2 linked regions of the Homo sapiens genome follow. The protein of the gene in region 2 interacts with the protein of the main gene of each other region in a pairwise test. Each region holds a gene or a part of one and is shown on either strand. Other genes may lie near its edges.

The links. The genes of interacting proteins can lie anywhere in the genome.
Region 1: the proteins of POLR3C (region 2) and KIAA0408 interact in binary tests that used the Homo sapiens proteins (3 or more experiments, as listed by UniProt).

Annotation. Positions count from the first base shown.
Region 1 is NC_000006.12:127,457,878-127,461,627, reverse strand, and holds the start of KIAA0408 (uncharacterized protein KIAA0408), read left to right. Parts: upstream 1-2,238; 5' UTR 2,239-2,453; intron 2,454-3,750.
Region 2 is NC_000001.11:145,822,255-145,826,004, forward strand, and holds the start of POLR3C (DNA-directed RNA polymerase III subunit RPC3), read left to right. Parts: upstream 1-1,945; 5' UTR 1,946-2,115; intron 2,116-2,190; exon of another isoform or gene 2,191-2,274; coding exon of another isoform or gene 2,275-2,293; intron 2,294-3,502; coding exon of another isoform or gene 3,503-3,522; coding exon 3,523-3,669; intron 3,670-3,750. Other genes in the region: E3 ubiquitin-protein ligase RNF115, read right to left, coding at 1,518-1,619. UniProt on the Homo sapiens protein: DNA-dependent RNA polymerase catalyzes the transcription of DNA into RNA using the four ribonucleoside triphosphates as substrates.

The sequences.
Region 1 (3,750 bases), on a different chromosome or scaffold from region 2:
TGAAATAAATTAGTATGTCATCAGGTATGAATGACATAATTCTTTCTAAAACATAGGGCAATTATTTGTGATTGCCCTGGGACAATCACACTGGGACAGCCATTAAAAGAGATTGAAATGGGTACTACTGAGTGACACTTAGGAAGTATAGTCCAACCTAACATCTCTTGTAACTTAGACACATACTATCTGAATTTTCGATAGGATTTACAAAATAGTCTTAGTTTGATTTACAAGTGATACATAGAAGTTAAGAAGTTTGGAGTAGAAGAAAAGGTAAAGGAAACAATGTTTTTTGTTTTGTTTCTCTGAGACAGAGTCTTGCTCTGTCAACCAGGCTGGAGTGCAGGAATGCCATCTCTGCTTACTACAACCTCTGCCTCCCGGGTTCAAGCAATTCTCCTGCCTCAGCCTCCCTAGTAGCTGGGATTACAGGCCTGAGCCACCACAGCCGGCTAATTTTTTTATTTTTAGTAGACACAGGGTTTCACCATGTTGGCCAGGCTTGTCTCGAACTCCTGACCCCATGTGATCCACCTGCCTCCGCCTCCAGAAGTGCTGGGATTACAGGTGTGAGCAACCACACCCGGCCAGAAACAATGTTAAGACAATTCTGTATTGATGTTTTTGTGCAACTCCCTCCTCCCTTTCCCTCTCTCAAAGAATCTTCTTCCTAGCCTCATAAGCATGGAGGCAGACATGAGCTACCCTTTATTGTGTGCTTGGCGCTATATATATTCCCTCATATTCTTATGGCCTCTTAAAGTAAATATAATTATGTCTTTAAGGAAGAATCAGGGTCTGCAAGATCACACAGATAAGTGGTGGCAGCAGAATTGAAACTTAGATCTCTATGACAAAATTCCATGGTTTGCAATCAGACAAAACAGTTCAAACCCGTTTCCTCCACATGGGTGCATTTCTATGAACTTTTGCATGATGCTTTACCACAATGAGCCTTGCTTGGGTTTTATCAGTAAGATCAGATTATCAGTATCTAGAGACAGAATTGCTCTGAGGGTGAACTCAGATAAAGGTCTGTTCAAAGTACTTAGCACAGAACCTTGCAGAGGGTTGCCCCTCAGTGAATAATCACTATTATTACTATAACTATCACTGTTATTGTTGTTATTGCTGTTGAGATTATGATGTCAGGCTTTCCAGACACAGAGTATGGTTTCATTTGATTGTCCTACATGTATTAAAGTCCTACTGTGAGCAGGTTACTATTACTAAACTTTAGCTCCTCATGAAATGTTTATCTGGAAGCAGGTGAAAATAATGTGAGTGAATATGTATTACTTTAAAGACCACACCAGGGAAGCTCTTCAGACTTGAAGATAAGACCTTATTGTTTAAACTTGTGTATTTGCTAAGTTAGGCAAAAAATTGCTCTAGAGACTTTTTTGACTAAATTAAACCAAATATCATCAGATGCATGTGTGTACAAAGCCACAATAAACCTGAAAATGTCGCTGGGGAGGCAAGATCTCCTAGCATTTCAGAACAGGCTGATTTGATCATGATTTAGAGAGCTTTTCCATACACTTAGGCTGCTTTCTCTTCCTATGGCTGCAGCACACTTTAGTGGAAAATAAGCCCATAGGTATCTCATTTTTGGGGTGTGTGTGTGTGTGTGTTTTGTCCTCCCACAATAAGAAATCTCATCCTTTCCCATGGGCTCTGATTTTCTCTAACGTAAAGACATCGCTACTACTGTAGATAAAAGCAACACACTGTCAGAATCACAGAGAGCTAAGAGGTTGGACTTTATGTTCCATTTCTATTTTATTTGAAGATAGAAGTTTGATAACTTTCACAGATCTTTTGAGAGTGCATAATATATATAATTATGCTACACATATTGTTCTGCCACATCCAGATGCAAACTTCTAAAGGTGCAGCAGAGTACATCCTGCCACCAGCTGAGAAGGAGAAAGAATTATGGAAGGAGGGAGATAATTCTTGCCTATAAAAAAATGAGTTTACTTTCCTAATAAAATAAATCTAAAATTGGCCATTGTCATTGTATGATGTTAACAACCAGCTCTTTTGGCAAGTTTGAAAATACTGGGCTCCATTATAAAAGCTAAAAATGTCCTGGACCTGGAGTTGTTTACCCAGAGCATGAGCTGCTCTAAAGTTACAGAGCTCTGGTTGGAAGAGGTGGCTTGAAGGCCGCCTCCAAGTAACTGACGTCACAGTAGTCTCAGCTGCTGCTGTGACACTAAGCTGAGCAGCTTTTTGACTTGTAAAAGTGGTGAAGGTTTCAAAGGGACTTGTCAGTACTGCTCTGTGGAATGGTTGGACTTATTTTGCATCCCCTTTTCTTGTAAAGAATCGAGATTCACCGAGCTGAGACTTTTCTCTTTAAGACAGCTAGCCATCCACTTTCTTCCACTGCTAATTGACCAGTGGTCGAGCATCCATAGGATTTCTCCCCAGTGTGAAAGGTATGTTTCTTTCCGGCAAGTTTACAAGCAAGTGACTAATTATGGCAGGATACAAAGGGGCTGCTGTTGAGATGTTTTAAACTATGGATACTGTTTAAGTGGAGTGTAATTTCAACATCTGTCTCTGCTGTTGTCTGTGTCTGGGCTTAAAAACAGTGGGCGGGGTGCATAACAGATTGTACTGACTCCTAGGAAAAAGGCTGTTCAGCTGCTCAGGGTGGATTTCCCAACTGTGGACTGACAGTACCATCCGCTCTTTGAGACTGTTTTTCCAACACTGCTTCTCAGTTGTTTGAAAAGCACTTTGCCCATCATTGATTTTCACTAAGTATATTTATTCAAATGTGATTTTTTTTATTCATATAAAGACTTTTAACATTTGCAAATTAAAGGTCACAATCCTGGAGACTTGGTATTTGAAAATTGCGGTGAAAAATAAATTTTAGTTTTATCTAAGGTGGTGGTGGACTCACTGTAGAGTTAGTGTTTCTGTAATTTGAGCTGAAGTCTATGCCATTCATAATTGAATAATCTACGTTTAGGAGGGAAACTTACCACTATGTCTTTTGTTCACGATGGTTAGTTTTAGACATTTGTTTACTCAAACCAAATGTTTGCTTTTAAAGTTTGCATTTTATAAGTAAAATCAGTGTGCATACAGCTTGGATGTTTTCTAATTTGAGTAAATAACTGTAAAGAAAACAAGGAAGAAGATAATTAAATGAAACGGTAAAGTTGATTCATTCGGAATTGCATGTGGTAGTGTCTCTTTGACCTTGTTGGAGCATGAGGAATGTGCTAAATCAGCAATACACAGCAATGAAAAAAATTTCCCTTTTACTCTAACAAAATCAAATCATGGTGGTCTTTGGAAAGATTCAATTGCAAGTGAACAATAGAGAGGAATGAGATTTATTAATTCATTGAAATAATTCAAGTGATTATAATAGCCTGGAGAAAGGGATAGAGAATTTAGGAGGTAAATGGTACATTACTCTGATAGGTTATAAGCTGGGGAATTCCTAATCCATCAAAGTTAAGCAGAAGCAAAACATCTTCAGGCCAAATGAGTCTTCTAGGAATTGTGAGATTAGCAGTACCTACTGTGTGTGGCATTTCTATTGGAATATGTAACCTCTTATAAATGAAAAATCTTTAATTATGTGAAAAGTGATATGTTTAGCAAAAGGAAATAAGGACAGCAAGAAACAAGTACTCTAAACAATAATCTAAAAAGAGAGAAGTAGCAATGGAGCAGCTGCCCCTAAGGAACGCTGTTTAGTTTGTTTGGATGCAG
Region 2 (3,750 bases):
CAGGTGGAGGTTGCAGTCAGCCGAAATCATGCTCCTGGGTGATAGACAGAGGCTGTCTCAAAAAAAAAAAAAGAAAAAAGAAAAACAGCTAAGTAGCATTTAGATGAAACTATGACTCTGAAGTAGGGGGTGCGGCAAGTAGAGAGGAAAGAATGTATCATAATGCCTTAAACAAAACTTTTGAGTGAGAGAAGACTATAAAACACCCTTTAAGCACTTATTCACTGGACTCCATTTGTGTTTCTAAGAAATAAGATATACAGACTCACTTCAGAAGGTTTTCTCCTACACTGTATCTGAGACACCATAAATAGAAACATACATTATGTTGCCACTCTATCACAAGACTGAACCTGGACACTTGTAAGGAAAGGAACAACCATAAAGACAGTTGGCCAAGGACAGGATTGACATTCACTCTGGGGGAGCTCCTCGTAGTAGCTACAACCCAACCCAAAACAGTTTCTGGGTTTGTGATGCTGGTGCTGGCTAGTATGCTGCATAAATGTTGTTTGTTTTTGTAGAGAGGGGTCTCACTCTGTTGCCCAGGCTGGTCTCAAACTCCTGGCCTCAAGCAATCCTCCTGCCTCGTCCTCCCAAAGCACTGGGATTACAGACCTAAGCCACCGCGCCTGACCTACAAAAGTGTTTTCTTCCCAACCACAGCACTGCCTCTCAAGGGGCTAACACTCTGGCAGAAACTCGTGAAAACCAATTTCACGTCAGAGGAAGCATCCCCAACATTCTGTCCCGGCTCTTTTTCTTAGGTGAAGAAAGGGACAGGGCGGGGGGCGGAACAATGATATTAAAGACACTGGCAGCATGACAACCAAAATAAACGAAGTTGAAACAGTACGTCCTGCCTTCTTCCTAAAGCCATTTCCTTCAACAGTGATAGGAGTGCAGACCGTCTGCAAGTCATTAGTACGCTGCTGTCTTCACTGTCACAAGGACCCTGGAAACCACTGAAGAGCAAAATCCCCCTTTTCGCCCCACAGATACCTTCCAACCCCCTTTCTGTGCTTCCTTCCCTAGAAAAAACCGAAGAGTGACAATCCTCAGCAATCCGCTATTTCGCTTCACTGACAAGGGAGGTGGCGGGGGCGGTGGGGGGTGAAAAGTGGAAAAGAACACAGAGGAAGGTGAGAAGACACAGTGGAAGAAGTGTGGGGGGAGGTCATCGTAGGAAAAAGACCAGGTATAAAAGAATGCAAGAAAATTGAGGGGAGAGTTATCAGAGGGAAACTTGCTAAGAAAAAAAAAAATTAAGGACACGGGAGGTAAAGAGGTGAGGTCAGGTGGAGCAGCCCAGGATGAATTAAGAGGTGGGCAGGAGGTACGGGGCCGAGGCCGTGATGCCCAGGGTTTAGGGCCGGCGGCTTAGAAGTGGGCAGCAGGTATTCGGCAGACCGATGTCGGGCGAGTCAATGATGTGCAGAAAGCTCCAGACCCAGTTCCGGGAAATCGGGGCCAGGAATCTATGAGGTTCCCAAGTATAGAGAACACAGCGCTCTTACCGGTAGTTTGGGGCTGACCTCGCCCTTGCAAAAGTGGCAGAAAAACCGGTGGGCGGCTACAGCGGCGCCCGAGTCCGCCCCGGCCGCCGAAGCCTCCGCCATTTTTGCCCTCCGCCGCGGCCGTCCGAGAGGGCAGCCGGCCCGTCCCTCGCCAGGCCGCTACCTCCCGAGCTGCAGTCGTCGCCGCCGCCGCCGCCTCGGTGCGGCCCACCGCTTCAGAGCCCGCGTCGGTCACGTGAGTTGGCCAGGCCCAGAAACGCGGCGGCGCCAACAGCTACCCTGCGGCCCGCCTCCCAGCACCAAAGAGGCGCAGGAAGGAGAGACAAACGGCCCGCCCGCCGGCTCCACAAACAGCCCCTCGCTGGTCCTCCAGTCTTCCAGCGAGAAGAAAGAAAGAGCGTCCCCGGAAGCCGCCGAAACTCTGGGGTAGAGTGGCACGCGCTTTTTGCTTTTCCGCGTCTTCTTCGGTGGCGATCCGCGTCCTAGAAAGGGCGGTGGGCTCCACCTCGGCCTAGAAGGCCAGCGGGAGCCGTAGGAAGCCGTCGCGGGAAGCTCAGCCGAATTGGAGTTGGAGCCCCCGGATTGCGCTGACCCTGAGGTTAGTGGAAAATGCTGTCTGAACGTGGCGGCACTGACTGGACCAAGAGACCACGTCCGAAACGGGAACCTGTGTAAAGGAAGTGTAGAGCTAGGAGCCAAGCGCCTTGGAAGCCCTTTCCGAGGATGGCAAAGGATCTGGGAATGCTTCTCCAAAGATATGTGGATGGACGAAATAGGTCTCTGGTGATACTGAGGCGGGGTGGGGACGGGGAGGCAAAGACTTGGCTTCTTAGGAATTGGAAGAAATAAGTAAACAATGTTTGGTAGCAATTTGTAATAAGGAAGTAATCATAAAATTAACTACGTCCGTTTCTGATTGTGTCAACTTTGTCAAGGAGTAGAAGTTTAAGAATTGAATACTGTCCTGCAAACAACGTAACCTCATCTCCTGTTTGACACACCCTGTTGAGAAGCAGTCCTTTACCTCCTAAATTTCTTTTTCGAAATTATCATTTCCTTTATGGACTGAGAATAACACTGCCTGTTCACTCCCACCGAGCTGTGAACAGTGACCTTAATTCTTCCAAGCAGTGAAGTGTAGAAACTAAGGTCTGTGACAGACCGCAAAATCATCTCCCAATCTTTAAGGAAAATCAGAATCACGCATAATCCCATAGAGATAAATTTGATGCATAGTCTTTTCCTATGCATACATTTTTCCTTTTTTTTTACAATAATTGAATTTTTATATTTTTTCAGCTTGCTTCTGTCACTTAATATATTATGAGTAATTTTTTTTGTTTTTTTTTGTTTTGGAGACAGAATCTCGCACTGTCGCCCGGGTTGGAGTGCAGTGGCGCGATCTCGGCTCACTGCAACCTCTGCCTCCCGGCTTCAAGCGATTCTCCTGTCTCAGCCTCCCTAGTAGCTGGGATTACAGGCACCCGCCACCACGCCCAGCTAATTTTTTTGTGTGTTTTTAGTAGAGAAGGGGTTTCACTATATTGGCCAGGCTGGTCTCAAACTCCTGACCTCATGATACGCCCACCTCGGTCTCCCAAAGTGCTAGGATTACAGGCCTGAGCCACCGCGCCAGCCTATTATGAATAATTTTCTACATGAATACGCATCGTACTAAATAACTTTAAATGTTGGTGTAGTATGCCATTGTATGGGTATGGCATCATTTATTGTTAGACGTTAGATTGTTTCCACTAAGTCGGTATTATAAAGAGAACTAATGACTTCATTATTATTAGCTTTTTCTTTCTTTGGACACAATATCCAAAAAGAAATTGTTGTTTCAAAGATATGCAAGATTTTTAAGGCTTTTTGATATGTATTGTCAAATTGCCCTCCAGAAAGAATACATGAATTTACACTCAGCAGCTCTGCTTCCAGCGTGAAAGACTTTCTATTGTACCATTTTGGTGTTTTTTCCCTAGCTCTCAGACTCCCCAGTACAATGACTCAAGCAGAAATTAAGCTCTGTTCTTTGTTGCTGCAAGAGCATTTTGGAGAGATTGTAGAAAAAATTGGAGTCCATCTGATAAGAACCGGCAGCCAGCCACTAAGAGTAATTGCCCATGACACAGGAACATCACTGGATCAGGTATGTCTAAATGACATTCATTTTCTCTCATTTCTTTCACTAATTTATTTCACCCACCTTTGAATATTGTTCTTCTCACCC